Regions from separate parts of the Homo sapiens genome. Here all the other regions are linked to region 3. Evidence: fine-mapped expression QTL. A gene starts in region 3. Each other region holds a variant in brackets. All regions are shown on one strand. Distances are between the middles of the regions. Region 1 overlaps PTPN14 (protein tyrosine phosphatase non-receptor type 14). Region 2 overlaps PTPN14 (protein tyrosine phosphatase non-receptor type 14). Region 3 holds the start of PTPN14 (protein tyrosine phosphatase non-receptor type 14). Region 4 overlaps PTPN14 (protein tyrosine phosphatase non-receptor type 14).

Evidence for each region.
Region 1: its variant is fine-mapped to the expression of PTPN14 in tibial artery (GTEx, PIP 0.93).
Region 2: its variant is fine-mapped to the expression of PTPN14 in cerebral cortex (GTEx, PIP 0.96).
Region 4: its variant is fine-mapped to the expression of PTPN14 in pancreas (GTEx, PIP above 0.99). The same link has a PIP of 0.9 or more in skeletal muscle and stomach.

Annotation. Positions count from the first base shown.
Region 1 is chr1:214,367,626-214,375,732 of GRCh38, reverse strand. PTPN14 (protein tyrosine phosphatase non-receptor type 14) reads left to right here. Exons shown (of 19, transcript NM_005401.5): 16 at 2,894-3,022; 17 at 6,042-6,276. Among named protein-coding and RNA genes, the nearest start is that of SMYD2, 91 kb to the right of the region's middle. RefSeq lists an enhancer at 5,556-6,056. The variant A/G (reference allele first, on the strand shown) is at 4,503.
Region 2 is chr1:214,455,134-214,463,240 of GRCh38, reverse strand. All of the region lies in intron 2 of PTPN14 (protein tyrosine phosphatase non-receptor type 14), which reads left to right. Among named protein-coding and RNA genes, the nearest start is that of PTPN14, 92 kb to the left of the region's middle. The variant T/C (reference allele first, on the strand shown) is at 4,110.
Region 3 is chr1:214,548,062-214,556,168 of GRCh38, reverse strand. PTPN14 (protein tyrosine phosphatase non-receptor type 14) reads left to right here and starts at 4,567. Exons shown (of 19, transcript NM_005401.5): 1 at 4,567-4,986. RefSeq lists enhancers at 3,441-4,261, 4,262-5,082, 5,083-5,904.
Region 4 is chr1:214,435,179-214,443,285 of GRCh38, reverse strand. The region is part of intron 3 of PTPN14 (protein tyrosine phosphatase non-receptor type 14); the gene reads left to right. Among named protein-coding and RNA genes, the nearest start is that of PTPN14, 110 kb to the left of the region's middle. RefSeq lists enhancers at 3,513-3,852, 3,167-4,138. The variant T/G (reference allele first, on the strand shown) is at 3,488.

The DNA.
Region 1 (8,107 bases), 180 kb after region 3:
TAATTTTCACCTACACTATAAAAGTGTGGTTAATATTGAATCTTGAAAGATTTGCCACATTAGTCAATGAATTTGTGTTACTAAATTTTTGTTGTTATTTCAAATACTTCAAACCTTTATATGTCAGTATTACATAGTTTAGCACTTCTGCAGTTAAAACTTTGACTTATGGATACATGTGTACCTGTAGTTAAATGTTTCTTAAATAGCTTACCTTCCTCAGAGTCCCTGTTAACAGAGGGACACTTATTTAGAATGTCACCATTTGCTCTGAACTCTGAAGTGGGAGATTTGTTCATCTATTAATGTTAAAGCCAGTGTTATAGGTGTTGTTAAATAACACAAGGTTCAATTGATAGTCCACTGTGATCAATAGCCTTAGAAACCTGTTTTCGGCCTTGTCTAGAATTACTTACTTTCCTCATTGGACTTTTCAACTGTAGCAGAATTATTAACAGGTTTTTTTAAGCCTGTAAAAGGCGAGTTAGATATCTAGCTTGTGTATCAATTATAACTAGTTTTGATACAGAATGGGAAAAGTATAGTATGGTTGGGTATATACTATTTTTATTAATATACACAGATAACCATAGTTTTTAATAATTAGAAAGTACTGTCAAAAGAAATATAAAAGAGTAACTATCATAGATCATATTACTAATTTTAACTTGGATTTTTGAGAGTGAGAAGTAAAAAGTGAACTCTAGGAAACTCTTAAATAAACTGTCAGTGGTGGGTTTCATGGGCTTAGTTTACATTATGAAACAATGACCAAAGTAATGTATTCCAACAAAGATGCAGATCACACAGCTGCTTCCTGATAGAGTGTCTATGAAAATCTTACATAGAAATATTATATTATCTTCTTCTTTTGGCCAGATCTCTTCCACTATTTTCCATCTGCTCTCTGAAAAAAGCTGTCACTTTGTATAAACTGTGCCCATCGGGCATTGTTAACCGAGGAGCATTCCCTTCCTTGGTATTCTCTGTGGCCCACATTTCATCCTGTGGATCCGGGTTAGACATGGGTGCATTTCATAGACCCGTGGACCTTGCAAGAACTTGTCCCTGTGTTTTGGAATAGAGGAGTATATTTTGCCAGTGTTTTCCCCCCTGGGTTCCAAGCAGCCGTTAACACAGAACAGAGATTTATTTGCTCCAGAGGTGGAATCACATGTGTGAAATCTACCTCAGCAGCACTGCTTGTTGTGTTTTTAATGCAGTTTTTAATACCCTTCTGTCAATACTTGGAATATACTGAAAGGCCCCAGGCAGCAGCAGCATTCTCTGGAAGTATTTATGTTTCCTATACGTTGGGTGCCAGAGAGGCTAATGTTTAAAATCACAATTCCACGGATAAACCAAACTCCTAGCCAGCAAATATATGAATGTTATCTCCCACCAGTATTTGGAAAATGGATTTTTCTTGCCAGCTTTGACCTAAACATGCCTTGTGTAATGAGACAATAACTTACATTGTTTTTGTTTGAACCAAGTTAGCATACAGTTTTATCAAATAAATGAGGGGAAAAAGTTTCAAACAATGATTACTTCATTACTTTTTGAACTCTCCAGAGATCTGCATTGTATAGATGTAGAAGGGACCTGACTTTGCAATATCAAGGCACAGACCTGGAAGGGAGAACAGAAAGAATTCCTCCAAAGGCCACCATTTCACCTTGACAGCATGACCTTTAACACTTTGGGTACAACTTCTTATTTATGGTTCTCAGCAGCTAGTATTTATAGCTGTAGAATTATCTTCCCCTGATCACCCTGAGCTGCAGGGGTAATAATTTTATTATCCAAAGTCATGTCATGACTGTAGTTCAGTTGGATGCTGTGGTACTACCAAGGTGAAGCTATTGATAAAATATATGCTGTTGACAAGAGCATTCGTAGCATCTCTGCCGTGCATGGCACCACAGAGCAGCAGTGACAGCAGAGGTTTATGATACACTTCATCTCAGATCCACAGGAGAAAGATAGTGCTCCAAAAGGGATGTTGTTTCATGATCTTTTTTTTTTTTTTTATTGTTTAATTGGATGCCATGAAGCACTGCTTTTCAAACTGGATTACAACACAGTGGTAGAATGTGAAATCAGTTTAGTGGTCATGACCAGGTGTGTGTGTGTGTGTGTGTGTGTGTGTGTGTGTGTGTGTGTGTGTGTGTTTCAATGAAATCGACTAGAAAAGAGAAAAGAATGGAAAGTGTTAGAGTACATTGCACATAGTAAGCAGTAACTATTATTTCTGTAACAAGTAAATCCTAAGTTATACATGTTCATATATATGCATCTATACATGTGTGTATGTGTATGGTTTTTAATAGGCACTAGTTTGCATATACTGTGAGTTGCAAACAAAGATCAGGTAAAGGCCAAGCCTGGTGGCTCAGGCCTGTAATCCCAGCACTTTGGGAGGCTGAGATGGGCGTATCACCTGAAGTCAGGAGTTCAAGACCAGCCTGGCCAATGTGGTGAAACGCCATCTCTACAAAAATACAAAAATTAGCCGGGCATGATGGCGAGTGCCTGTAATCCCAGCTCCTTGGGATTCTGAGACGGGAGAATTGCTTGAACCCAGGAGGCGGAGGTTGCAGTGAGCCAAGATCGTGCCACTGTACTCCCGCCTAAGCAGCAGAGCAAGACTCAGTCTCAAAAACCAGGATTAGATAAATATTTAATAGGCTTGAGTGGCAAAAAGTATTTTCATGTGAGAATGTGTCACTACACTAGCCTCTGTAGTCTCAGGGTTTTTGTTCATTGAACTAATTCATTCGGCCCCAAAAATATATCCAAGGTTTTAAGGTGGATACAGATGGACAGGTGATCAGCAGGTAATGTTGTCCGGACTTGGGGTTTATTTACCGATACTTTTCTTGGTTTTTAGGTGGTGGTTGGCGGGGCAGAATGGCACTACATAGCCACCCAGGGGCCCCTGCCACACACGTGCCACGACTTCTGGCAGATGGTGTGGGAGCAGGGAGTGAATGTGATTGCCATGGTCACTGCAGAGGAGGTAAGGGGAATGGCCTACTCCACATCCTTTTTCCCCAGGGGAAAGGGTGGCCAGAAGATGGGCTTTGTGCTGTCAACTTTGCTACCCTATCCTTCTTCCTGCAGTGCTGTTTCTCTGCACATGCTTTTCTCTTTGGTATACATCTGTTTTCTTACTTCCAGATAGATATTTTTTCCCCTGGAGATAATTGATTGTTGTAGCTTTTCCTCCTCCCATTTTCATCTGGCTTTTAACTCTTTTCCTTGGATTGTAATGCACTAAACTGAAAATAAAACAACAGAAAACCAAAAATGACAGACTTTAGTTCAACCTGCTGACTTTCTGTGCCAAACGAAAACAGTGATCTTTCCACTGGAATTTGGGAGTCTCAGGCTGCTCTGGGCAAATCGACATAGACGCCCAACTCCAGGCACCCAGCTCCACATGCCATCATCCTTATCAGCTGAAAAGAGACCAGAAGCCGTTGTTCCTGGAGAGTCCTCTGTTCTTTGGGGGAAGAAAAAATATCTTTTTCTTCTTTTGCCAAGCCAAACATAGTTTTTCTGCTGTAACTAGAGAACTCTATGTGATGTTATAAAAAACCAGCCTACACTGCCAGTCAATCCAGTCGGTGTTGAGCTTGCTGTCTTTGTGGGGAGAAGTGTTGTATTTCTTCTCTTGTCACATTCTCAAAATTTCTTTAACCACCTTCTTTTATTTCTTTCATTAAATTCCAATTTATGTTTTGAAATCATTCAAGGGACTAGTTTCATGTGTGTTTACCAATATCCATGGTATTGCAGTGGCCTTTCCTAGCTATGTTAAAGGGGTCAGGAACAAAGAAAATTGGGGAGGAAAAAGTCATATTTTCCTTCATTGACTGTGTTGAGCATTTGCTTCTCAGCACAGTCCATTAGAAGAAAATAATGAAAGGGACATCAGGCTCTTTAAAGCCAGTTGTACTTCCCTGGGCTGACCTGTTTGACCTTCCCACAAAGAGAATGAATCCTCCTTAAAGCTTCTAGAATAGATTTATCACCTTATCAGCTCACACCATTGCAAGGCATTCATTCACCTAAATACAGCATACCATCTGTGCTAACTTCAGGAGTACACGGTAAACGAGACAGGCACCATCCCTGTCCCCATAGAGCTTATGTCCTAGTGGGAGGGACATTCAAAAGTGAACAGATAAAATCAGTGCAGATAGCAGTAAGTGCCGTGGCAGAAATGGAAAACTATAGTCCAGAGTGGGTCTGGGTGAGTACAGGTCCTCCTGCCTCATCCCTCCTCCTCTTTGTGTGGGTTTCAGCTGCAAAACTGTCATTCACGCTAGGGGACTCCTACTAAAGGGTGGCTTCACGATGTGCAACCCTGAGCTCCAGGCTCTGTATCATGTTGCACACTTGCTGGAAGGCTGGAAGTAAAAACCTTATTAATAGTAGCATAAATTCAAGGGAGAAAATTTTTAAAAATGGAAAAAGGGTTAAGAAAGAGAGTG[A/G]CTGGGGTCTACTTTAGATCAGGGGGGTGGCCAAGGACCCTCTGAGGGAGTGGCATTGGAGGTGAGACCGGAGTGACAAGGAGCCAGCCTTGCCAAGACAAAGTAGCATCTAGTAATCTGTGGGACAGCTGGGGACTTATAGTCTTTTAAAATCCATAACTGATTTAGACACTCAGCAGAAATGTAAATTCGAGGTAAATCTGCTTTCACAGGATTGGTAAATAAAAGAGGAAGGTATGCTTCCAATTTAAGGAGACTCAATTAAACCAAATGAAGCCAGGCAAGGTAATTTACATATTCCGCAAAGATGTGTTGCTTTACAAGTGGGCTTTACAAGAGGAACTCTAATGTTCCTGTAAACAGCCATCAGGGTTCCCAGAGCCTGTCACCACTGCAGCTGTATGTGTTCAGTGCTCCTTCTCTCTCACCACCTACTCCTTGCCCTGAATCTCCTCAGCTACCACCTCCTCCACACTCCGCCCCTTCTCCAGAGATTTTAAAACGGTGCAAAGCTGAAACATAGACCTTGTGTAAATGGTTGAGAATACATATTCTCAGAAAAGTTTATAAAATCAAGGGAGAAAGAATGGTGATGTAAGCAGCTGTTCTCAGTTCTAGTTGTAGATTGAACTAAAACGCATTGGTCAGGCTGAAACAAATGTGAAATCGACACTAGATAAAGACAGCATCGGTAGTCAGTGTGCTGTAACAGAAAGAGCTGTGCGCTGAACATCCGAAAGGAGTAACGTGACCTACAGCGATTGCTGGAACCCCTTCCCGCCTTGTTTAAAACCTTTGAATGACTTCCCGTGCCCATGGGATGAAATCCAAACTTTCCACCATGGACTGTGAGGCCTTTCCAGTCTCCTCTCTGATCGCCTGGCCCCTCACATGTCACACTCCAGCCACCCCGAAGACCTTCGTTTCTTTTTTCTTTTTTTTTTTTTTTTGAGATGGAATCTCCCCTCTGTTGCCCAGGCTGGGGTGCAGTGGCGTGATCTTGGCTCACTGCAAGCTCCGCCTCCCGGGTTTATGCCATTCTCCTGCCTCAGCCTCCCCAGCAGCTGGGACTACAGGCACCCGCCACCGCGCCTGGCTAATTGTTTGTATTTTTAGTAGAGATGGGGTTTCACCATGTTAGCCAGGATGGTCTCGATCTCCTGACCTTGTGATCCACGCGCCTTGGCCTCCCAAAGTGCTGCGATTACAGGCGTGAGCCGCCACGCCCGGCTGACCTTTGTTTCTTGAATGCACGAAGCTTGTTCCTGCTTCTAGACTGCACTTGCACTTCTCTCTAACATTCTACTGCACCTCGGTTGTGAATCTTTTAAATTTTCCATTGATGTAACTGTCATTGTAAATTGTGTTATTGGTCTTAACTAGCATGTATAGGATCTACCCTGTGGTAGACACTGCAGAGTGCTACTGAACTAGCGATTTAGAAGCTATTTGCATTTTCTTCTGTCTTCATATCTTAGGATTAAAAGGATGAGAGCTTCCCTTGACCTATTTCCAATTTTGCTTTTATATGTGATTTAGGAGGGTGGACGAACCAAAAGCCACCGATACTGGCCCAAACTAGGTTCAAAGCACAGCTCAGCCACCTATGGCAAGTTCAAGGTCACCACGAAGTTTCGAACGGATTCTGTTTGCTATGCAACCACGGGCTTGAAGGTCAAGCACCTTTTGTCTGGGCAAGAAAGGACGGTGTGGCATTTACAATATACTGACTGGCCAGATCACGGCTGTCCAGAAGATGTCCAAGGATTTTTATGTAAGTGTTTTTCTTCCCAGTCTGCTACCTGACTGACTTTTATGATCTGTGTCAATAATTCATCTGTTGGAGATGAAATGGAAAAAGAGGATGCTTTCTCTTAAGTGGCAAAAGTATTATAATATTGAAATATATATTCCTTTCTTACTATGTAGAACAGAGTATAATAATACATGTCACTTATTCTGTTTACCTTTCATGCACGTAAGCTAAGACTGTGATCAACATATTGGCTCTACCTTGATTCAGACCTTTAGCTACTCATTTAATCAGTAACTATTCTGACACATGTTACAACAAGGATGAACTTTGAGGAATGATGCTGAGTGGAAATAATCCAGTCACAAAAGGACAAAAACTATGTGATTCCACTTATATGAGGTTCCTAGAATAGGCAAGGTCAGAGACAGAAAGTAGGTGAGAGGTTACCAGGGGCTGGGGCAAAGGGGGATTGGGAAATTACAAATTTTTTTCTGAGGCGGAGTCTCGCTCTGTCACCCAGGCTGGAGTGCAGTGGCACAATCTCAGCTCACTGCAACCTCCGCCTCTCAGATTCAAGCAATTCTCCTGCCTCAGCCTCCCAAGTAGCTGGGACTATAGGCACAGCCACCACATCTAGCTAATTTTTGTATTTTTAGTGGAGATGAGGTTTCACCATGTTCGCCAGGCTAGTCTTGAACTCCTGGTCTCAAGTGATCTGCCCGCATCAGCCTCCCAAATTGCAGGGATTACAGGTGTGAGCCACTGTGCCCAGCCAGGAATTACATTTGATGGGTGCAACATTTCTGTTTGGGACAGGGAAAAAGTACTGGACATGGATGATGGTGATGGTTGCACAACTATGACTATGCTTAATGCCACTGAACTGTGTACTTAAAAATGGTTAAACTGGTAAGTTTTATGTTGTGTCCACTTTAGCACATTTTAAAAAAAAGGAGAAATAAAACTTAAAAATAGGCCGGGCATGGTGGCTCACACCTATAATCCCAGCACTTTGGGAGGCCGAGGTGGGCGGATCACCCGAGGTGAGGAGTTTGAGACCAGCGTGGCCAACATGGTGAAACCCCATCTCTACTAAAAATACAAAATTAGCCAGGTGTGGTGGCGCATGTCTGTAATCCCAGCTACTGGAGAGGCTGAGGCAGGAAAATTGCTTGAACCTGGGAGGCGGAGTGAACCAAGATTGCATCATTGCACTTCAGTCTGGGCAACAAGAGCAAAACTCCATCTCAAAAATAAATAAATAAATAAATAAATAAAAACGAATAACATTAAAAAAATTGTTTTCATGAAGGTTTGCATCTCACAAGACCTATATTTCCCTACAGTTGAGCATCTCAGTACTTTCTCGTACTTTCTCATATTTTTATGAAGACACTAAGAAGTATTGAAACCCTCTTGTAGTTTTTGAAACTGAAATTTGCTCAATGGCTAATTCATTAATTTCTGTGTATGTGTACTTTTAGAATGTGGTTATATTAGAAACTAATTCACCAGATTATGTGCAGTATTTTTATTTGAAAGACCCAAAATTGGGCATGTACCCACTACGTGCCAGGCACTGGATCGGGCTCTGAGAATGCAGAGATGACACTGAGTTCAGTCTTCACTTCCGACGTACTCAGAGCCTAATGGGAAAGACAGGCCAGTCATCATCGTCCAAAGATGAGATCTGATACCCTCCTCTGCTTTTCAGCGGTGGCTGCAGCTCTCCCTCTTGCTTTCCACATGCTCATCTAACTGTCCTGTGCTTGTCAGGAGACCCCGTTCTTTACTCACCCACCTGGAAAGGAGCCCCAGATGCTCCCTGTAGCCTTGTGCCTGCTCTGTT
Region 2 (8,107 bases), 93 kb after region 3:
ATTGGGGAAGAGACTTGTCTAAGTTCTTATAGAAAACTAGTATTTTTACTTTTAAGTACTTCCAGTCACTCAAATTAGAGCAACTAATTATTCCTCATATGCATCGGGGGACAGTGTAGCATGTGGTTACAAGTATAGGCACTGGACTCTTGGTCTTGGGTTCAGCTTACTCTTCTGTCATTTATTAGCTGGGTGACAATGGAAAAGTTACTGAGTCTTTTGAGGCGTAAGTTTCCTACCTATAAAATGGCAATAATAATGCTTACTTCACAGGGCTGTTGTAAATATTAAAAGAGTTCCTGTATGGAAAATGTATAGTGCTGTGTTTAATAATTTATAATTGTTCAAATTTGAGAGTCTTAATAAACAACTTAAAAAAAACCCATTTTTTGTTAAAGAAAATATTGAACAACCATCTTGTGCCAGGCACTTTTTTAGAACTTGGTGAAATGAAGATAAATAAGGTACAATTTTACCTTCAAGACATGCACAGAACAATAGGGGAGTCCAGCCTTTAAATAAACAGTTAATATCAAATGTGGTCCAAGCTAAAATAGAATGCAGGGGTAGGCCCAAAAGGCGATGGCTGTCCTTAGTGTTGTGCAGTGTGCAATCCAGCCCACTGAACACTGCAGTCTTGCTGGTGAGAGTGAAAGAGTTGATGGAAGATGAACATAGCCTTCACTCTGAACCAAAACTTGAAGGACATGTATCAGTCCAGCAGGTAGAAAAGAAGGCCATGTCATCTTTAGTGTGGGGGACTGGATTATCAAAGATCCAAGGATGTGAAAGAGCAGCCAACATTTTGGGGGCTGAGAAGGCATCCCTCTGAATCACCAGGTCAAGCTAGAGTTTATAACAAATGGTGGGAGGTGTGTGGAGATGTGTATGGTAATAATGGCTTTCAACAGACTATTGGTTTTCTCAGTGAGAAGGCAAAAGTCAACCCTGGATCATCCCACAACTACCTTATCACAAAGAATAAAGCAGTGCATTGCCAAGTGTGTGCCGTAGTGTGATTGACATTCCATTGCTGAGGTGGGGTTTGTGTTTAATACTGACTTTATTTTGACACGTCCTAATGGGTGCATCCGCATTCGACCAAATCACTTTCTTTTTGAATTTTATGCTTTCCTTCCATGACAGATAACATTGAAGTTGTGCCCTTTTGGGAATCAGTCCTCTAGATACTCCTGAATTAAAGGATCAGATAGAGTAATCTGATACTTTGTTCTTCTTTTGCACACACACACCTTAAAGAAGAATGCATCCTCTATCCAAAAGCAGAAGTAAGAGGAGGTGAACTCAAGGTCTGCTCCTCATACCTTGAATTTGTATTTGGGTCATTTTTCAAATAGAGCCGATGCTGCTTTAGAGGAGAAGGTGACAACCAATCTAAGATATAACAAAAAGTTTAGTCTTTTTTGGGAGGGGTGTTGGGGCCTAACTCTATTGCACAAGATGGAGTGCAGTGGCATGATCATGGCTCATTCAGCCTCCACCTCCTGGCTCACGTGATCTTCCTGCCTTGGTCTCCCAAAGTGCTGGGATTACAGGTGTGAGCCACACACCCAGCCAAAATATATTTAATCTTTTTTTTTTTTTCCAGTTGAGACAGGATCTTGCTCTATTGCCCAGACTGGAGTGCACTGGTACGATCATGACTCACTACAGCCTCAACCTCCTGAGCTCAAGTGATCCCACCTCAGCCTCCCAAGTAGCTGAGACTACAGGCACATGCCAACATGCCCAGCAAATTTTTAAATTTTTTGTACGGATGGGATCTCACTGTATTGCCCAGGCTGGTCTCAAACTCCTGGGCTCGAGTGATCCTCCCGCCTCAGCCTCCCAAAGTGCTGGGATTATAGATGTGAGACACTGTGCTCAGGGTAATATGTTTAGCCTTTATGAAGTCTTGGAAACTAGATTATGGTGGATATTTGGCTTTGCCATTAGAAGTAGTTTAGGTATATCATAAATTTTGTAATAGCTTTATATTAGGAAAGGATGTATGGTGGATTAAAATTTTTTTATTAAATTTTTTATTTACATTAATTGTTTTGCCACTAAATTTTATTAGATAATTTTTAATACTTTATTTTTACTTTTAAGACTTTGATTTCTTAGAGCAATTTTAGATTCACAGTAAAATTGAGAGGAAGGTACAGAGAATTTCCATATACCCCTGGCCCCGTGCATGTACACCCTCCCCCACTGTCAACATCACCCCCTGAGTGGTACATTTGTTATGATTATTGAACCTACATTGACACATCATTATCATGCAGAGTCCGGAGTTTACATTAGGGCTTACTTTTGGTGTTGTACATTCTGTAGGTTTGGACAAATATGATATGCTGCTATTTAACATGGCTTTCAGAAGGATCCAGGCCTGGTTCCTATTGTCAGCAAACAGTCATGCTCTGGGAAAGCTGAATGTGCTAGGGTCCCTGCTCCCAGAAACCAGATAGGGTCTTTGCTCCTAGAGTTTAGAGAACAGGACAAACAAGAAACAAAGCAAGGGGAACTGCTTGTGCTGCGGTACAGAAACAGGAAAGAACATGGAATTTTCAGGGAAAGGCGGAATTCAGTTTGCACTGATGTGTGTGTGTGTATGTGTGTGTGTGTATGTGTGTGTGTGTGTTAGAATTTTCAGGGAAAGGCAGAGTTCAGTTTGCACTGATCTGTGTGTGTGTGTGTGTGTGTGTGTGTGTGTTGGAATTTTCAGGGAAAGGCAGAGTTTGGCTTGCATTGATCTGTGTGTGTGTGGAGGGGAATTTTCAGGGAAAGGCAGAGTTCAGTTTGTTTGCACTGATGTGTGTGTGTGTGTGTTGTGTATGTGTGTGTATGAAAGGGTCATGGAAGGGAAGGAGGGTAAAGGAGGAAGGGGCAGGATGGAGTCTGCTTTTGAAGGGTTTGCTGTGTCTGCCTAGGGAGTTTTAACTAGATCTATAGGATAGTATTTCTAAAATAAGTTACAAAGGATAATTACCACCTTTTGATTGTATATACTCTGCTGAGCAGTTTCCATATATCAGCTCATGTAGTTCTCATAACAAGTCTGATGTGTCCCTACTCTTGCTGTTCCTATGTTACAGATGGGGAGGCTGCAGCATAGGGTGACCTGCCCACAGTCACTGGGCTGGTAAGTTGTGAGGCCGGTTCAAACCCTGGCAGCTGACGCCACTGTTCCAGTTCCCAGAGACTTGTAGTGGGGGAGCAGGGAGTATGGTAAAATGCTTTGGGAAACATTCTTTCCTCAATTCTGTAGTAAAAGAAAGAAAACGGTGTTCCAGTAAGTGTTTCACAGTTATCTTAGCCTTCCAGAAAATACTCTTTTGAACTATGTGGGGAATAAAACATTGCTGTGAAGTGTAAGGTCATCAGAGGACTCCAAGGAGGAGCATGACATAGTTACCTTGCATGTTAGGTAAAGAACTCAGTAGCACTCAGTAGTAGAAAAGAGTGGGGATCGGCCAGGCGTGGTGGCTTGCGCCTGTAATCTCAGCACTTTGGGAGGCCGAGGCAGGCGGATCACGAGGTCAGGAGATCGAGTCCATCCTGGCCAACATGGTGAAACCCCGTCCCTACTAAAATACAAAAATTAGCTGGGCGTGGTGGCACATGCCTGTAATCCCAGCTATTTGGGAGGCTGAGGGAGGAGAATCACTTGAACCAGGGAGTTGGAGGTTGCAGTGAACCAAGATCGCGCCACTGCACTCCAGCTTGGTGACAGAGTGAGATACTGTCTCAAAAAAAAAAAAAAAAGAAAGAAAAGAGTGGGGATCAGCTGGGCACAGTGGCTCATGCCTGTAATCCCAGCACTTTGGGAGGCTGAGGCGGGCAGATCGCCTGAAGTCAGGAGTTCGAGACCAGCCTGGCCAACATAGTGAAACCCCATCTCTACTAAAAATACAGAAATTACCCGGGCAAGGTGGTGCATGCCTGTAATCCCAGCCACTCAGGAGGCTGAGGCAGGAGAATCGCTTGAATCTGGGAGGTGGAGGTTGCAGTGAGGCGAGATTGAGATTGTGCCACTGCACTGCAGCCTGGGTGACAGAGTGAGACTCTGTCTCAAAAAAAAAAAAAAAGAAGAAAAGAGTGGGGAT[T/C]GGAGGCGAGGAACAGAGATGCCAGTGGGCACAACTGTAAACCTGGCAAGAGGTCATGAGATGAACTGCTTAGGAAAAGTGTGTTTTCATTGTTTTAAAGATGAGGGAAAAATCAGGGATAAGTTGCTGCTTGGGAGCTCTATTAACAAAGACAATTCCAGAGATATAGGAAGCTCAGAAAATCAGAATTCCAATAATGTCATTATAATATGTCTGCATCAGTGGGTTTAACCCTTTTCTGCAAATCTTTGGTGGAGCATGGATGTGTAAATGGAGCTGGGCCTTTTACAGAGGAGATAGGATATCTGGAGCCCTATCTCAGTTTGAAAATAACTAGCCTAGGTTAAGGGAAAAAGAGCTAAAACAATGGTGCCTTATGACTAATTCTCACGGTTTAAAAAAGAAGTACATGAAAACACAGCAGAGTTTAGTGGCTAGGAATGTCAGCTTGGACCAAACTGCCTGAGTTTGAATCCTGGTTCTGCCATTTACTAGCTATGTAACCTTAAATAGAAGTACCCTGTGCCTCAGTTTTCTTATCTGTAAAATGGAGATGGTAATAGTAGCCACCTCTACAAATTGTTGGGAGGATTCAGAGAGTTAGTTTTTCATAGTTGCCACAGTCTCACAGTGCCTGGCATAGGAAGCACTCGATGTGGCTGCCTTCTTTGCAAAACACCACCCAAGCCATCCAGCCTCTGCCATGACACTTCCAGAGACTGGGCTGTCACCCTTTTGTAAGTCTGCTTGTTCCATTTTTAGATGACTTTAATTATTAGAAACTGGGGCCAGGCCTGGTAGCTCACAACTATAGTCCTAACACTGGGAGGCCAAGATGGAAGGTCACATGAGCTCAGGGGTTCAAGACCAGCCTGAGAACATAGTGAGATCCATCTCTACAAAAAAAATAAAAAATTAGCCAGGCATGGTGATGCATGCCTGTAGTCCCAGCTACTTGGGAGTCTGAGGCAGGAGGATCCCTTGAGCTCGGGAGAATGAGGCTGCAGTGAGCTATTAACATACTACTGCACTCCAGCCTGGGTGACAGAGTGAATCTCTCTGTCTCTCTCTCTCTATCTCTCTCTCTCTCTCTAGGTATAGATATAGATATAGATATAGATATAGATATAGATATAGATGAAACTGTGATCTTATATTGAGTTAAAATAGCAAAGTCTTTCAGTTCCTCGAACAGCTAGGATTAATTTAAGGTTGTGCTGTCCAATATGGTAGCCACATGTGGTTATGGAACACGTGAAATGTGGCTATTTTGAACTGAAATGTGTGGTAAGTGTAAAAACACATCAGATTTTGAAGACATAGTATGAGAAAACTAAAATACTCATTAATTATATGTATGTTTGAGTACAGGTTGCAATGATATTTTGAACGTGTTTTAAATAATATTTATTAAAAGTAATTTCACTTTTGGTACTTTTAAATCAATGTGGCTTCTAGAAGATTTAAAATTAAATATGTAACTCACATTTGATTTCTGCTGAACAGTGCTATTCTAAGAAACGCAAAGGGGGCATTTAATGGTAATAGTGAGTATAAGCATCCTAATAAAATGTAAAAATATGCTAGAATAACCTTGGCTCTACTTTTAACTTAACAAGTGGAAGAAGGATAAATGATATAACAAAGGCACCTGAGATACCCTTCAGTTCATTGGTAAACCCTATTTGAGGTAGAGAACTGCTGTGAGGAAATCCAGCGCTCTGGAGAATGGTGACTTTCATAACTCTCGGCTCTCTCCTAAGGCTAAGCCTAAGAGCCTTGGTTTTTAAAAGAGTGTAAAAAAGCTTTTAAAAACCAAACTATAATCATTTCAAAGAGTAAGTCCTTATCCTCTAATTTATCCCCTTTTTCTTTTGCAAATTTATATTTTGATCTTTACTAAAAGCTGTTTTACCCAAAGCTATCACTACAGTAGAAATTTTCCACATTTTGCTATTTTCATAATGACTAGAGATTATAAAGATAAGAAACTTAACATGCATTTCCTATTATCACATAAAAGTTAACTTACATGAAGAATATTTCTGTGGTTTGATTTCATGCTAATCTTTTGGCAATTAATAATTTATGTGGGATTTGGGGGGTACTCAATTAAATGCAACACCTCATGCCCTGGCAGATAATAGTGGAATTCTGCTGTATTTTATAGCTTGTTTAATCACGTCAGTATATATGTGTATTTGCAAAGGATTAAAATAATCAATGCTGATTAAGAATCGACTGAAGAGTAGACTGCTGGGGGAGATTTCTCATCTTTAAGTTTTGTGTTGCTTTTTGTCTTTGTAAAAATGACAGTGTGAAACATTATTAGCTTAATGTCAATCCTAGAATGTAATGGCACCGGCATCTCCATTTTCTAGGTATAGAGATTGTGGGTGAACTATTCGCCAGTCTTAACTTGTACGTCTTCATCTTTCTGTGTATTCTAGGTGAGTCGTACAGTCTCAGAAGAGTGGTTTTTCTTGGCTATGGGACTTGCTTCTTGGGTCTGTGTTACTCTGCATTTTCTTTTCATGTACTTTTATAAAGAGATTGGCTAGGAAAATGAAGAGGGTGCAGTTGTTAATTATAGATGTGTCAGTTATAGAAATCTCAGACCTACCCAGAGTAGAGGTTGATTACACACAAGTTCTTTTCTACCGTTATCCAACTGATGTACAGTGGCTTATTTTCCAAAGCCATTGGAATGTAATTGCATGAAGTGCTATTTCAGAGTCTGCTTATAGTCATCTTTTGAAGTATTTTCCATGCCTCAGTGAAACTGTTCGTGCTTGTATAATATGTAATTCATATATTTTATGTGGAAGCACACCATTTCTTAATTTACAGCTGAAATATTGGGTAAGATAGGCAACCTATTACAACTTAATGCAAGATATTTTAAACTTTTGCTTCTGGATGAGTAACTCTTCAAAATGCTTGAGATAAGATCATGGCTTTAATCCTTGGTAATTGCCAAGACTGCATCTAAACCTCTTACAAATAGCATTAGTCTGTGCCATTGTCACAAAACTGGAAAAACAAAACCCTCAAAAAATATTTCCCTTTTAATAGCTAAGGTGGGGGATTATACCATCTCTTTACAAATAAATGAACAAACAAATAAAAACCACCCCAAACTACTTTTTAATAGATTTTATTTCTTTAGAGCAGTTTTAGTTTCACAGCAAGATTGAGCAAAAGGTACGGAGAGTTCCCATAATGTCCCCTGCCCTCAAAACTACTTTTAAGGGCCCTTATTCTCTAGAATCTTTCCATAATACCAAAAGATGGACATTTTGACGCTGTAGTATCCACACACCAACCTGCCACTGAAGAAACTAGCCGATTTTTTAGTATATGCTTAAATGTATGTTTCCTGTGTTAAAATGCAGTACACCAAACCAAATAAATGAGGAAGCTGCTCACATAAAAATGACATTTTAGTGTGGCTTTCCCTACTTGGTTTCATCGTAGTGCATTTTTTGTAAGTGGTTCAGGGATGTGGTTCTTGTGTCTGAGGACTGGCTCTTCTGTCTTCTTTTCTCATCATTGCAGTAAACTTATTGCAGAACTCATGGCACCAGAGCTGTGTGTTCTAGTTTTCTTAAGAAAACTGGAGCAATAAAATGGGATTCATACCTCACCCAGAGGAGGTATCATGAGGATTAAATGAGTCTGGCTTACTTTTGGTGCCTGAGATATAAACAGAACAGATATTTCAGGCATTTACTCAGGTAATATGATGGGATCCTCTTGGTGTCATGGAGAAGGTGGTTTCTATTTGCAATCATCCACCATGCTTTCTTCAACCATGTGGCAATGTTTAGCAGCTAAGCTCAGCTTTCAAAATTGAGCTAGAGTTTAAATTGGCAAGTTAACCACAAACCAGCCTGGTGGGGTCTCAGCTGGGCTTGACAGGATTAGTAGTTCCTTGGATAATACACAGGAAGTTGATTGGTGCACATGCTAGTTGAAATGAGAGCCTAGGCTCTGAT
Region 3 (8,107 bases):
AGAAAGGTCCAGGTTTGAATCTTGGCTCTATCATGTACTTAGGTACTGCATGGCCTGGTACACATATAAATACAGGGCACTTGAAGTCTCAAGTTTATTTCCATGTTAAAGCAGACACACACACACACACACACACACACACACACACACACACACACACTTACCCCGCAACCACTTACCTCGGTGTATTAGTCTGACTGAGCTGCAATAACGAAACAGTAACAAAATACCACAGGCTATGTAGCTTACACAACAGAAATTAATTTTCTCACAGTTCTGGAGGCTGAAAGTCCAAGATTAGGTGCTGTAAGGGTTGGTTTCTGGTGAGATCTCTCTCCTTGGCTTGCAGGCTTCTCATTGTGTCCTCACATGTGTAGAGAGGAGGAGCTCTGGTGTTTCCTCCTCCTCCAAATTTATATGTATTACACACCACACCACACACACACACACACACACACAAATATGATTCCATTTATATGAAGTTTAATAACCAGCAAAACAAATCCATGGTGGTAGAAGGGTGATACTGACTAAAAAGTCACACAAGGGAATTTCCTGAGGAGATGGACGTTTTCTATATCTTGACCTGGGTGGTGGCCCCATGCATGTATACACATGAAAAGGTCTTCAAGCTGCATCTACACTTAAGAGTTGTGCTTTTTATTGAATGTGAATTGTATCTTCCTAAAACACTGTCTAAAAATATTACACTCCTCCCAACTCCCACCATAACCCATCTCTACCCTAGACCCAGGGCATAAGATACAGAAGCAGAGGATTCAGAGAGGATGTATATTTGAAAAAGCTTCCCACTTCTCTCCATTACTCCAAGTTGCTAAACATCCTTTTAGGAATTGGAATTAAGCTGGACTATATACATACATGTACATATAAAACTTAAAAATTTGTAAAAGGCCCCTAGAGATCATCAGAGTTTTCTTAACAAAGCAGGCTTACTTTCCAGTTGGCTTTGATTTGGGGAACTTGTTCTGCTTTCAGTGGCTTCAGCATCTTTGAAGGTGTAAAATGAATGCATTAATGAGAGGAACACATTGGGGCTGGGAGGAATTGTGGAAGCCCACGGGATTCTTCTTTGTATTTGTAGTTTGAATTGGGCTTATAAGAATCTGGTAATTGCTTTGAGAAATGTAATATTGATAAGTTCTTACAATTGCAAAGCTTTAAAGCAAACATGTAGTGATGTGTTCAGGACCTATTCCATGAGTCGAATTCCTTTTCACCCTGATGTAGTATAAGGAGACTTGAGTGTGACAAAGATTTAGGAAATGGGTTTCTTTTTTCTTTTTGAAAGAAGCTTGAAACTAGCTTTTATATATTTATCCTGAGAATGAAAGGTTTTTGTCACTTCAAGCTGTACTTTCTATTTAGAAAATATTCTTTTTTTTTTTTTTTGAGACGAAGCCTTGCTCTGTCGCCCAGGCTGGAGTGCCATGGCGCGATCTCGGGTCACTGCAAGCTCCACCTCCTGGGTTCACGCCATTCTCCTGCCTCAGCCTCCCAAGTAGATGGGACTGCAGGCGCCCACCACCACGCCTGGCTAATTTTGTATTTTTAGTAGAGAAGGGGTTTCACTGTGGTCTCGATCTCCTGACCTCGTGATCCACCCGCCTCGGCCTCCCAAAGTGCTGGGATTATAGGTGTGAGCCACCGCGCCCGGCCTTAGAAAATATTCTTATTTGTATTGCCTTTCTGTGATCTATTCTAAAGAAAAAGAAATATGGCTAGTCAGATACACTCTATAGGCTTTTAAGTTAATAACGCATATTTTTTTTCTTTTTCAAGAGAGGATCTCACTCTGTCACCCAGGCTGGAGTGCAGTGGTGTGATCTCAGCTCATTGCAGCCTCGGTCTCTCAGGCTCATGCAATCCTCCCACCTCAGCCTCTCTAGTAGCTGGGACTACAAGCCTCGAGCTACCATACCTGACTAATTTTTGTATTTTGTGTAGAGTTGGGGTTTCGCCATGTTGCCCAGACTGTCTTCCTGTAAGTAAAATTATCTAAATTTTTAAAATGTGTCCACAGGGTTAGTGCTAAATCTTAGCTTTACTTATCATTGAACACTCAGCCACATTCATTGGAGTCTCAACATTCATTTTCATCTGAAGGCGGTGTGAAAACAGTCCTGTCCCCAGACACTGGCTTTATCCACTGGCTTTATTGCTTAGCTTCCTCCACAGGCATGCCATCTATCTGGAGAAGAGTACTTTGATGGAAGTTTAGTCCTGGGAAAGACCTCAGAGATGAACTATTCCAACCAAGCTCTGCCCTCTTTGCCACACTCTACTTAGAAAATAAATTCAGGCCTAGAGGTGAAGTGCCTTGATCAGGGTCCCAAGGCTGGTCAGAGGCAGAACCGGAACCCTTGTGTCTGCCCAAGAAGGACAACAAGTCCTTTGCTGCTTCTTTTATGCCACAACAGCCTCAGGGTGCTGTGCTCAGTTTGGTAGCACAGTGATGTTAGAGCAACACAATATATTTCCTAGTGTCTTTTCACTAGAAAAGACACCAAGCAAGAGGTCTCCCATCTCCCAGGAAAGAGCAAAGGCCAGAGTTTTACATTGAGATCCTGAAGGCATTTTCTTATCTTTAATCCTAATCCTGTTTGGGTCCAATTTCAAAGAGATGAAGAGCATGCACTTTAGGCCTGACAGACTAGGGCCCTGATCATATCTTCCTAGTTGTATGACCCTCAGTGAGACAGGTAATTTCTTCATGCCTCACTTTCCTCATCTAGGAATGGGGGAGTGCTTTCCACACTTTCTGGAACACAGTCAGGCACTGCCTAATGTTTTCTTTGGAAACCCAGCACGTCTGTACAGCTATTTCCTTTAAAATGTGAGAAAGTTGATTTCCCTTCAACCTTTTCTTTCCATCACTTTTGCATTGCACTCGGCGTTTTCTCTAATTTACAGTTCTAGAGATTGGCAGATGCTCGAAGAAAATCAGAGTCACTACGGATTTATTTATTTTATTTTATTTTATTTTATTTTATTTTTTTGAGAGGAGTCTGGCCGTGTAGCCCAGGCTGGAGTGCAGTGGCGCGATCTCGGCTCACTGCAACCTCCGCCTCCCAAGTTCAAGCAATTAACCTGCCTCAGCCCCAGAGTAGCTGGGACTACAGGCGCACGCCGCCACCCCCGAAACATTTTTTGAATTTTAGTAGAGACGGGGTTTCACCGTGTTGCCCGGGCTGGTGTCGAACTTCTGAGCTCAGCCAATCCCCCAGCTTTGGCTTCCCAAAGTGCTGGGATTACAGGTGTGAGCCACCGCGCTTTTTGGTTTCCAATTCTCTTCCCCAAGAGGCCAGGAATTTTTGCATGAGTTGCCGGACACTGAAGTGATTTGGGACAATACATTGTGTGCCAACGACTTCAAGGTCCCTTTTCAACAAAGGACTGGAATCTTACCGAGATAAATCCCAAGACATGTTTGTAGCAATGCAAAGGACCACAGAAATCTAGACAAATTATTTAATTTTGCAGCTACAGAAACCTAGGATCTCAGGGGCTGGGATACTCCTCAGTTATCCAATCGGGCAGGGCCTAAAACCCAGGTTCAGTCGCCTGGCTCCGAGCTTTTTCCATCATACCAGCTGCGTCTCATTAACTCCACCTCCGAAAGTGCTAAGGAAGTTCCCTCCCAGTGCCTACCCAGGCAGGGTGGGGCGATTCTGTGGCATGGAACAAACCGGGAAAACGACATTTTCCAACTCTCAGCACACAGGCTGCTTTTTATCATTCCTACGGGGCGGGAGGGGGCAGGGAGAGAAGGCTAAGACACCGGGTCCAGTACCCAGAGATTCTAGGGAGAGATCTCTGAGATTGCCTACTTGGTGAGGCCACCTTACTTTCTCCTGGTCTGTTTTCCCCTGTGGGGTGGCTGCATGAAACGTCCTGCTTGGAGGGTTCCCCAATATAAGGTGGACTATTCTGAATGTAGGTCGGGGTGAGCAAGTTCCTGCCGCCGCCCCGTCTCTGCGGTCCTCGGAAGTCTAGGTGGGCTCTTCCTTGCCTTGCCTCTTTCTCCCCAACGGCGGGAGCAGCCCAGGGTTGGGGTGGCTGCGGTCGCCTTGCTCTCTCCACTTCCACGTCTCTTACTCCAGGGAGTTTCATCCGGTCCTCCGTCCTCGGCCCCCACCTTTTAAAACATTTTCCAAAACTACCCCATTAAAAGTGTGCGACTTCTCCGGGCCTGCAGAAGGAGCTCCTGCAGCCCGGCATTCCTCGGATTCCAGCGCTGTGACGTCCCCAAGGACGGCGCGCCTCCAGCTCGGGAGCTCGGGAGCTGGGGCTCCACGTTTCAGCGCGCGCCCGCGGCGCCCCCGGCGCGCGCCCTCCCGGGCCGCATTCCTCCCCGCCCCCGGCCGCGCGCCCAGCGCTCCCTCCGCCTCCCGGCCCCCAGGGCCGCGGAGCCCGGCTCTGGGGTGGGGGAGCCGTGGCCGCCGGCGCCTGCTCCGTCCCCTCCCACTCGCACGGCCCCTTCCTCCCTCCTCTCCCGGCCGCTCGCATTTCCTGCCGCTCTGGCTCTCCCGGCCCCTCAAAGTTCTTTCCAACTTTTTCTCGGCGGAGTGAGCGCAGCGGGCGCAGACTCGGGGGCAGGTTGCTGTGCTTCTCCGGGCTCAGCCGCCTGCTCTCCTGGCTCAGGTCCTCGGGGAGCCCTAGACAGACATCAAGTGGCCACTGGCGCTCCTTCCCCTCCCAGCTGAGCCATCCTCCCCGGCCTCCTCGGGCGGGACAGCCCCGTGCTTAGGTTTTTCTCCTTTTCTCCCCCGGTGCGCCTCTGCTCGGACTCTCGCGCCGGGATCGCGGCGGAAACCTCCCTCCCCTTTCGCCTCCTGCGGCTCCTTCCCTTCGCCCCTCCTCCGCCAGTCACTGGAATCAATTCCGTGGGGAATCGGCTCCGCCGCCGCGAAGGACAGCCTTTCCGCGCGGGACTCCGGGGCGCCACGGGGGCCATGTAAGCAGGTAAGCCCCGTCCAAGCCGGGAGTTGGGCCCGAGGTTGGAGGCCGCCTTGGCGCTCCGGGCGCCCTGCAGATGACTTGGGCAGACGCTGGCAACGCCAACTTGCGATTGGCGCCCCGGGACGCCTGGCAGGGCAGCCTGGGGCGCGGGGTGGCCGGGCCGCAGGGGTGTTATCTCGCGGTGGGAGCTGCCCGCGGTGAGGCGCAAAGCTGGTCCCGGGAGCGAGCTGGAAGGTGAGCGCAGTCTGGGGAGTTTGTGGTTAAACCCACACCCTGGTCCCCTCTCTCCATTCCCTTCTGCGTTTTGGGAACGAGAGAGGGCCTCGGAAGGGCAACTAGAGATACCTAGACCTTGGGGGCTAGAGGATGAAAGACGAACGACGTCGCGGTCGCTGCAGCGGTAGGGGGATGCAGCTGCCCGACGCTCCCAATCACACCCCACCACCACCGGGAAGGAATCTTGAGGGGAGCGGAGTTTTCCTGCCCTCTCACTAGGCCCCAGTGGTGCCACCGAACTCCTGGGCGTCGAGGCTCCTACTTGGGTGGTCGAGCTGGCTCGTAGAAAAAAAGCTGTGGCCAAACAATTTCAGATCAGGTCTTCACCTCAAACTTCCAAAGTTGTAGGTATTAACAGCCTCTCCTTCCCCACGTGACCCCCAGATCTCAGGTTTGAATACTTGTAAATGGGGTTTACACCTTTTCGTTTGGAGAGAGCAGTGAGGTAACGCTGCCCCTATCTCCCTTTCCCTCTCACTTCCTTGGGTTCTTGTTCTCCAACCTTCTCATCCCCACCTACAATTTCAGAAATTGTGGGGTTTCCGCTTAAGTCTAGGGACTGGCTGTCGCAGGTTCTTTGTGAAGGTGAGGAATCTCTAGACTGCAGGTGCGGGCAGTTACAGAGTTTCCACCAATGTGTTAACTTCTTGAAATGGATTAGTTTACTCATTCATCCAACAAACCCAGCTTCTACTCTGCTAGGAACAGGATAGAAAGATGCTAAATGAGATCACAGGGCAGGAGTCTGCAGCCTAGTGGAGGAAACTTGAAGGCCGGTGAAGAATGATAATACATGGAAGAGGGGTTCTGTGAGAGTCTGAGGCGAGCTTGGTCCTGGTGAAGGGTGCACTACACTTAGAGGATAGAGGTTGTGCTCCTCTGGAGGGTGTATTCCAGGCAGAGGAAACAGCTCGTGCAGAGTGAACACAAGAAGGACAGAAAGTTTCCCTAGCCATCTGGGGGCCTGAGGGGCATTTATGGCCATGTTGGTGCAGTGTTGCTGGGATAGCATTCTCTCCACCCCCAATATCAGAAATAAATCTAGAAGCACGTTAGCCACTTATGGGAACCACAAGTAGCTTACCGAGGAGCCAAGGCCTCCCTAATTGGATACACCTCCATGCCTGCTGCTGTTTTACCACAAGCAGCTGTTGTATGATCATCTACATTTTAATTGGCCCATGCTCGGTTTCATTAAAATGGTATTGATTCTTCTTTTTTGTCCCCCACATTCAAGCAATGATTCCTTTTTTAAAAAGGCTGTTTGACAGCCGTAGGTGTGGTAATACCGCAGCATTACGGACCTTGTATTATAAAGTTAGCTAATTGTTTGGTGATGAGGTTGAAGCTTGTGCCATAGAAATGACAGCCTTAATGAGCGGGAGCTGAATGGCATGATGCCCTTTTTGCCCAGTCTGAATGGGTGGCCATGAGGTGCAAAATTCGTTCATCTGTATGTCACTAAGTTTGTTATACTTTTCTCTGCTTTTAAGTCATTACTATTGCTTTAGCACAGTTGTGCTAAAGTCGTTCTTTTCTCTGAAACTTTATGAAAATAGAAAACACTATCTTGCACATTTTTGTAGACTAATGGCCCAGGATTCAGCAAATCCTGCCTAGAAAAGTTTCTTACAATGCAGTAGCATTCTGTACGTGGTTTGCCTTTCAAGGGTGTCTCTTCACTGGACTGAAGTGGTGTTGTAGTATTGTTCATAGTGGCTGAGTCCTGGCTGAGGTGGCAGACATCCAGCTTTTGGTGACCTCAGGCCAGTACATCAGAGTGGGAAGAACACACTGACTTCCTACAACTTTGGGTGTTTATCCAAGCCCCTCTACCAGCATCTTTTCTTATCTCAGGAACAGCCCCTTCACAGAAGTTTTCCTGAAGGTGTAGGGACCTGCATGAGAGAAATGGCTGAAGAGAAGCCCACTCCCACTAATCCCAGACATTTGCCCAGTTTCCATCATTGGCTTAAACATGTAATTATTATTAACACTTGAGTTATTCAGATTTGTGCATACTGTGTCATGCTGGTAGCTGTAATAGAAAGGACAGTTAGGCTTTTAATAGGGAAGCACCATAAGGAATTCAGAGAAAAATCAGAATTTTTAGAATAATTCTTATTTGCCCTGAACGGATGGGCTAAGTGTCAAGAACTATGAGGATTTTTTATTTTCCAGTGCCTTCCTTCCTTATTAGAGGTTTAAATTTGCTCCGGGGAAGCAAACATCAACCCTTTGATTACATATTATAGCCCCCCTGGGTTCCATATTCTTGTCATTTTTGAACAAGGATTTCATCAAATTCTTGCATTTGAGCTTCATTACTTAGTCACCAAATGCTGTGTTTTTAAAAAATTCATTTTAAGCCTGAGAACAGTGCTGTGAGCTTTGTTAGAGATAAGGCATGAGAAAGACAAGATGAAATACTTAATTAGCCAATTAAGGAATGAGGGAAAACAAACACGAAAGCTTTGGTAGGGAGGAGGTTCAAGTTAATGTTAAAATACGCTTTTGGATCTCCCCTTACGGATTTAAATTGATTTAATTTACGCTTCCTCTGTATGCATCCCATGGAGGGCTTATTGAGTGGTCCAAGGGGTATGTGTGGCAAATTCTGTAGCTTTTCCTGGCTGTCAGTGTGCTGGAGCAGGCGGTCCAGGTTTGGGAGTTTGAAATATAGCTAGGTTGGAATTCTAGCGCTGCCATTTTTTAGCTGTGTGATGTTGGATGGACGTCATAGCCCTTCTGAGCCTCAGTTTCTTCATCTGCAAAATGGATCTGGTAACATTTGGCCTCTCAGGATATGTATGGAGAATTCAGTGTCATGCTGTATAACAGTACCTCA
Region 4 (8,107 bases), 110 kb after region 3:
CCTCAACTAGGATTTTCTTATGTTTTACTGTGAAGAAGACTATAAATCAAGACTATACAGTAGATGCCTACTTCATAGTACAAGTTGTCCAAATACATGAAGTTGCTTCTTGTTTCTTTCTTTGCTCTTAAGAAAAAGATATGGTGTGAAAGATATGCAGTTAGGCTGGGCGCGGTGGTTCACGCCTGTAATCCCAGCACTTTGGGAGGCTGAGGCGGGTGGATCACTTGAGGTCGGGAGTTCGAGACCAGTCTGACCAATGTGGAGAAACCCTGTCTCTACTAAAAGTACAAAATTAGCCTGGCATGGTGGCACATACCTGTAATCCCAGCTACTCAGGAGGCTGAGGCGGGAGAATCGCTTGAACCCAGGAGCAAGAGGTTGTGGTGAGCGGAGATCGCACCATAGCACTCCAGTCTGGGCAACAAGAGTGAAACTCCGTCTCAAAGAGAAAAAAAAAAAAAAGAAAGCTATGCAGTTAGGTAGTTAGCTATTGAGGCAACCTACTGCTACTAGAACAATGAAGTATAGACAAATAAGATGAAGTTAACTTAGCCGAAGTTAACTTAGCCGTAAACATAATCTAGCTGTTTCTCTGATATTCTTTCCCTTTAGGGAAAACAAATAGTAAAATAAATCAGTGTTCTTTTGTAATATCACTTGGCATAACTTATTATTTATTGTAGGTGTCCTATAATGAAGAGGAAACTCAGAATTTCAAAAGGAAATAAATCAGAGGCATTATTCGTATTTCAAAAGGAGTCTTCATGTAATGTTTGTGTTCTTTAATGCATCTGAGATGTTTGATTGAGATGCTTTATAAAGCAAGATATGCTTATACGTATGTTTTAGCCATTAGAAAAACAAAGTTTACCAAAAAAATAGGTTGAGCATCCCTAATTCAAAAATTCAAAATCTATAATGTACCAAAATTGAAAACTTTTTGAGCACCAACATGATGCTCAAAGGAAATGCTCGTTGAAGCATTCAGGATTTCTGATTTTTGGATGAGAGATGCTCTACTGGGTAAGTATAGCAAATATTTCAAAATCTGAAATCCCAAACACTTCTCGTCCCTAACATTTTGCATAAGGGGTACTAACCTGTTTAGTATACTTCAAAGAAGTGATAATTTTATTATTACATCTTTAAATCACATGGTTAATGTGTTAGTATTTGGTCTATTTGGAACTTTTCTCAAAAGCAAACAAAAATAATGTGCTATTGAGCTATTTTGAAAATAAGTTCTTAAGCAGAGGTATTGATTTTTATCCTTTGTGAATTCCTTGATTTTCAAAGATACATTCATTCATTTGTTCATTCATTCATTGATTCCAAATTGTTCTTTATTAGTGTTACATTGCAGGACTGAGAAAGATTAAACAATTGAACTCATGAAATAATAAAGATTTGTAATAGAGCATGAGTCAAAATGTTAAAATAGTCTACTTTTTCTAAAGCTTGAGTAGAATACGATGATGCCACATTGTAGTGTTTACCTTTAACAAAGGTGTGAAAAGAAGGGGGAAAAACAACAGAAGCTATATGAAGAGGTGTTTTGTCATGTTGAAGCATGCAGGCTGTGCCTTATGAATTTTTAAGAGACATCCGCTTCCCATAAAGGATTCTCAAGATTGTAGGGGTATCATTACAATGGGTGGGATTGAGAATGGTGTGTCAATTTCAAAAATGGATTTTAAAAAAAATCTTGACGTTGGAAGAGGTGCAAAGAATAGATGTTTTATAATTGTTTGCTCTACCTTTTTTCCTGAATATCAGCATTGGGACATTCAGTTGGAGTGGAGTGGGTGGAGAGGAAGGAAGTGACAGATGTGCTACATCCACACGTTAAAGAAACTTACAGTGTCTGAGCAGCAGCAGAATCTAGAAAGCACAAGAATCCAAAACCTCAAAACTTCCCCAGCCTGAGGATATTATAGTTCTGTGTGGTTCTGTGGAAAAATGTAGTTGCGTTCCATCACCGGATATAATGTAACAGTAGTAGTCATGGTAGCAGCTAACATTTATGTGCAAGATGCTATGCTAAGTATCTCAGATTATTATCTTTTTCAGTCTTCACTAGAACTCTATAAAGTGGGCACCCTGAAAAAGAACTGTTTGTTTTTTAAATAACAGAAGTTTTTTCTCTAACAAGTGGAGTAGATTTAGGTCATCACATAAATGGAGTCTTTTATATTACTTTGCCAGAGAAATACATCCGTTCATGCCTTTCTTCACTGGCTTTATCAGAGTAACAGGGAGTTTAGTTCCATAAAAAGTCAACAAAGAAATCCAGAGGGCTGACCTACCAGTAAGATCAGAGATTATTAACTAGTACTATGAGGGCTGATTCTGGTCTTCAGGTGGGTTTTGTTTCACCAGGATCATTTTTGAAAGAACTGAATTGGGACGCCTTGCAGAGAGGCATGTGCTGTCTAACTGGGCCTAGTTCTCCACTCCCTAGGGAGTTAATAGTCAGCAGCATTTACACATTCTTGTGACCTGTCTGGCCTTGTAGGTATTTAGGTCCTGACTGCCGATACTTGCACTTTCTGTATAACTTGAAGTGCATCTCAGTACTTGGGTCAGCCCATATCTCTTCATTGACCCAGTTGATTTTATGTCATTCAGTGTCCAGCTGTATTAACACTTTAGCTGCCTATAAGAGACTGTAGGTGGTTGAGCTGAGTGTGAGAGTATAACTTCCCTAAGTGCTCATTTGAAAACTTTATTTCTGTGTAAAGATCACTCCGGAGGGCTAGATTATATGTCCCTGTCAACTTTCTACTGCAGAGCCATGGCTCAAATTATTCAGATTTCCTCTCTTTATTGCTCACAATATCTGTCTCATCTCTGATTACCCATAAAAGGTTCATGCATAGAAAGAGTACCAAGCGTCTTATAGGCCAATAAAGACATCATTCAAATCTTAAACAAACACAGCCTATTTGAGAAAGAGCCCTTTGCCTTATATCAAGACAGACCAGAATGATAGAGTTTTATATCTAAATATGAGACCCCACATATCAATAAATCACAGAGACCAGTTGCTTTGTTTTACAGATGAAGAAACTGAGAAACAGACAGATAAAGGGACTCTGCCCATAGTCACACAGCTGTTTAGTGACAAGCCTGGCTCTTAAGGTGGTTCTGGAATGGTTTTAGGTGAACCAAGCATGCTGACATGGGAGAGCCCATAGATAGGATTTATTTAAACGTTCAAAAAGTCTTTGCCAATCCTCCCCTCCCCTCCCCTTAGCTGTAACAGCTAAGACACACTGTGGAATTGGAAGGGATGAGTTTTGTCAAAGAGAAGGAAGTAGTTCAGACAGAAGAAACAAAGGGTAGAGGGAAACAGGCACTTCTTTGAGTGAGTCCTTTAAATAGCGAGCATTATGTAGAGAGTGGAACTAAAATGGGTTTTATTTAACGTCTTTATCAGTGATCTCCAGCCCTGGGCACATAGTGAAAGTGCCAAGCTTTCAGA[T/G]GACACTGAGTCCTTTAGAAGGGTGGAAAATTGAGACATTGCAAGTAAACAGTAGAAAGGTGTCAGCAGGTGTCAAGTTACCAGGTGTGACTCAAATAATGATACTGCTTTCTGGTGTACTTTGTAAAAGCAGAGGAGGCGTAATCATAGCGGGACATGTTGCAACATGTTTCGGTTTACAGCCTCCTAACTCTCAAGGTCAGCTCGTCAATCTTGTGCTTGCAGCTGGGGAGAGTGAGTAGACATTTCGCCTGACGTTTGCTGCCAGCATAAAAATGAGTTACCGTTATTCAGAGCAAATCCCAGCAACTTTGACGTAAGTTTAACTGAAATGCGAGTTAGACACATGGTCCTTTAGTAGAAAATCACAGAGATGAAGCAATGTTGGAAGCAAATGCTTTTGACCAGCATAAATGTTTTGAAGAAGGTAGAAAAGATAGATGTTTATGACAGTGACTAATGTGAGAAACCCATAGGTCTAACTAAGGAAAACATGAAAAAGGTCGGTAATTTGGATCCTTGAAATAAAATGGCCAACTGTGAAAAGATAGCTACTGATGAGGATACTGATGGAAAATTTGAAGCAAGTTATGTATCTGCTAGAGCTCTGTATGTTTTGAATGATTGTTGGAATCAGCAAAGAACTAGTATTTTTTGGTTTAATCTTCAAGGAAAATAATAGCTGGAAATAAAACAATAAAAAAAACACTACAAAGGAGAACATACATTAATGTGGGAAGTAGGGGGAAAAAAAGGAAAAAGAAGGAGAACAGACTTGAAGACCTCACTCTCTGGTGTTTGTTTCTTGGTCAGGCTCTGTAAACTCCCCAAAATTAAGTTCTTGTGTTTAGAATCAGGAGATGATGCTAGCATAGCTATTGTAAGGATGAGTTCAGAAAGCATTTGCCATTGTGCTTAGCATATAGTAGGTCTTCAAATAATATTTGTTTTTTTTAAATGAAAAGATATACTAGAAGGTAGCAGGAAACTGCTGCATCCCTCAGAGAGCTGTGCTGGTATCAGTCACCTGGCAGAAGATTCTCTGTGACCCACACTAACCAGAAACATAGGGGAAGAACATTCTGGGAAATGGAGTGCAGCCTAGTCAGGTTGAGACATTACAATGCCACTGTGAGGCTTCGTACATTATTAATGATTAGTAAAACCCAAATCACTGTAAACCATACCCTACTAGAAACTCTACTGAGTACAAATTTTGTACTGACTGGCGATTTCCAAAATTCAGAATTACTCCCTCAAAACAAATGATTTGATATTATTGAAGATAACTTCAAATTTGTCCCTAATTCCCTCAGGCAATTCCCAAAAGTGGAATTGCAAACAATAATTTAAGCAAACATTTTGTGTTATTATCATAGACATGTATTCCCAGGGAGGTTCCCCACCCTCATTCCAGTCCCATATGAGGGAGCAGATCTGCTGCAGAGGACGCGGCCTGGTGCTTTGTCCTGTGCCGAGTGTAGGAAGGCTAAGGTTATCAGGCCCGAGCAAGGAGACAGGATAAAGCGGGCCTTGCCTCACAGCTTCCCAGATGGTCAGAGCAGCTGTTCAGAACAGGGAAGCCAGGTTGGCTGCCACAGGACGGGCCAGGCTGACCCAATGGTAATCTCACAGTACTTGTAACTTGAAGAGACTGTAGTCTGAAAAGATAAACAGATTCCAGTGAAAGATTATTTAAAGAGATGATAGACTCCTGATGAGTGACAGTTATTTAAAAAATAAAAATAAGACATTGGGAGCCTGTTGGTTCTTTGAGTGTGGTCTTCACACTACGTGCATCAGTATTGCCTATGGCATTTTAAAAAATATGTAGGTTATTGTACCCCAGTCCTGACTCCCTGAATCAAAATCTGTTTTTGATCATTGCCATGGGTGATTCTTATCATTTAAGTTTGGTTAAATGGAAGACAACTGTATCCTGATGTCTTTTCAGCTGTAGCTGGTCTTTTCTGTTAGTAGATGGATGTTGGAGAATCTCAGGGGGGATTTTGGGGAACTGGGAAGGAATTAAAGAGTTGCAAAGCTTAAAACATTTGGTTCAGGCTGAGGAATTTAGAGAATAGATGGCGTGGTCTTATTTAGTAGAAAAATTGTGGGCGTCTTCCTGGGGATCCTAGAAGGAACAGAATGGAGAATCCAAGGTTCTTCTGTAGCAATTTTGTACAGTTTGATTGTATTTCCTCTCTTTCAGAATATTTTAGCCTTCTAGGTAGTTCAACTTCTGTAATGCACAATAGATTATGCATAATATAATGAGTAATACATCTCCTAAATAGGTTTAGGGGATATATTAAATACTATTTATTGCATAAGAATTTAGCCTTTTGTGCATCCTTTATTTATTATTAAATTTATTATTCCTATAAGAATAATAAAAACTGGCCTGAATTATACTACTCTAGGACCCTAAAACCTTAAACACAACTTCCCACTGTTTCTGCAGGCTTTGAAGTTACAGATTGAATTTTAATTTTTAAAGTGAGAATTTTGCAAAACTGAGAATTCTACATATGGATTTCAGTAATTCTTTTGCCACTGTCTGATTTATTGATATTTACTGCATTTAGGTAAGTGTAAGATGAAATAATAGGTAAATTAAGAAAAAAATAAAATAATTTCAGCCAAATAAAATTCAAGGTTGTGAAAACATTATTTCTTTCCATTATCAGTTATTTGAAAAAATATTATTTCTGGCACTGGTTCATGAAATACTTGATTTCAACTACCAACTAGAAGTACACTATATTTAAGTAAAAAAAAAAAAAAATACAGAGAGGCTTGGTTCTAGATAGCAGTTATCTTAATTTTCCAGACATCTGTGACTACTTCCTTACTATATACATTGAGAGATTTTGTGTGTTGCATTTGCATGCATACAAGCACACCCATGATTTTGTGATGTGCTGACTCTTGTTAAGAGTACTTGAAAAGCATTATCCTGAGAGCTAATATTCTGACAAACCTTTTTTTTTTTTTTTTTTTTTTTTTTTTGAGACGGAGTCTTTCTCTGTCGCCCAGGCTGGAGTGCAATGGTGCGATCTCGGCTCACTGCAACCTCCGCCTCCCGGGTTCAAGTGATTCTCCTGCCTCAGCCTCCCCAGTAGCTGGGATTACAGGCGCCCACCACCATGCCCAGCTAATTTTTTTAGAGAAGGGGTTTCACCATGTTGGCCAGCTGGTCTTGAACTCCTGACCTCAGGTGATCTGCCCGCCTCAGCCTCCCAAAGTGCTGGGATTACAGGCATGAGCCACTGTACCCAGCCCTAACTGTCTTTAACCAAAAATCTCACACTTACTTGAAAAAATATGGTTTCAAAATATTTTATCCACCACAAGTTGGCAAATGGCAGGTAAAAGAAAACTGTATTTTTTTTTAACTTTATTTTAGATACAGGGGTATACGTGTGGGTTTGTTATATAGGTAAATTGTGTGTCACGGGAGTTTAGTGTACAGATTATTTCATCACCCGGGCAATAAGCATAGCACCTGATAAGTAGTTTTTCAATCCTTACCCTCCTCTCACCCTCCATCCTCAAGTAGGCCCTGGTGTTTGTTATTCCCTTCTTTGTGCCCATGTGTTCTAGATGTTTAGCTCCCACTTAAAAGTGAGAACATGCGGTATTTGGTTTTCTGTTCCTATGTTAGCTCACTTAGGATAATGACCTCCACCTGCATCCATGTTGCTGCAGAGGACATGATCTTGTCATTTTTTGTGGCTGCATAGTATTCCATGGTGTATATGTAACATATTTTCTTTATCCAGTCTACCACCGATGGATATTTAGGTTGATTCCATGTCTTTGCTATTGTGAATGGTGCTGCAGTGAACGTACATGTGCATGTGTCTTTATAATGGAATGATTTATATTGCTTTGGGTATATACCCCATAATGAGATTGCTGGGTCGAATGGAAATTCTGCCTTAAGTTCTTTGAGAAATCGCCAAACTGCTTTCTACCATGGCTGATTTACCATGACTAATTTACATTCCCACCAGCAGTGTATAAGCATTCCCTTTTCTCAGTTATTTTTTGACTTTTTAATAATAGCCATTCTGACTGATGTAAGGTGGTGTATACCTCATGGTGGTTTTGATTTGCATTTCTGTAATGATTAGTGGTGATGAGCATTTTTTCTTATGCTTGTTGGCCACATATATGTCTTCTTCTGAAAAGTATTCATGTCCTTTGCCCACTTTTTAATGGGATTGTTTGTTTTTTCCTTGTTAATTTGAAAATCTATATTGTTTACACCCAGTTCACTGAATACTTTTTTTTTTAAAGGGTTTCATGAACTATTTAACCATTATACTCTAAAGCAGGCATTTTTCCTTTCTGGTTTAAAATGATTATTTTCTAATTTAGGACATTGTATAATTATAACATAATTATAACTAGAATATGATTAGAACTTCATTTAAAGCTTTGAACATCTAAAGAAGAATGGTGGGTTGAATTACGGATATTGTTGCCTGTTGCTCTGTGATACTTGCATTTTATCTCAACACACACACACACACACGCACACACACACACAGCAGACACACTACCGGACTGAACCATTTTACTTCTTTTCATCCTGGCCCAATATATAAATAA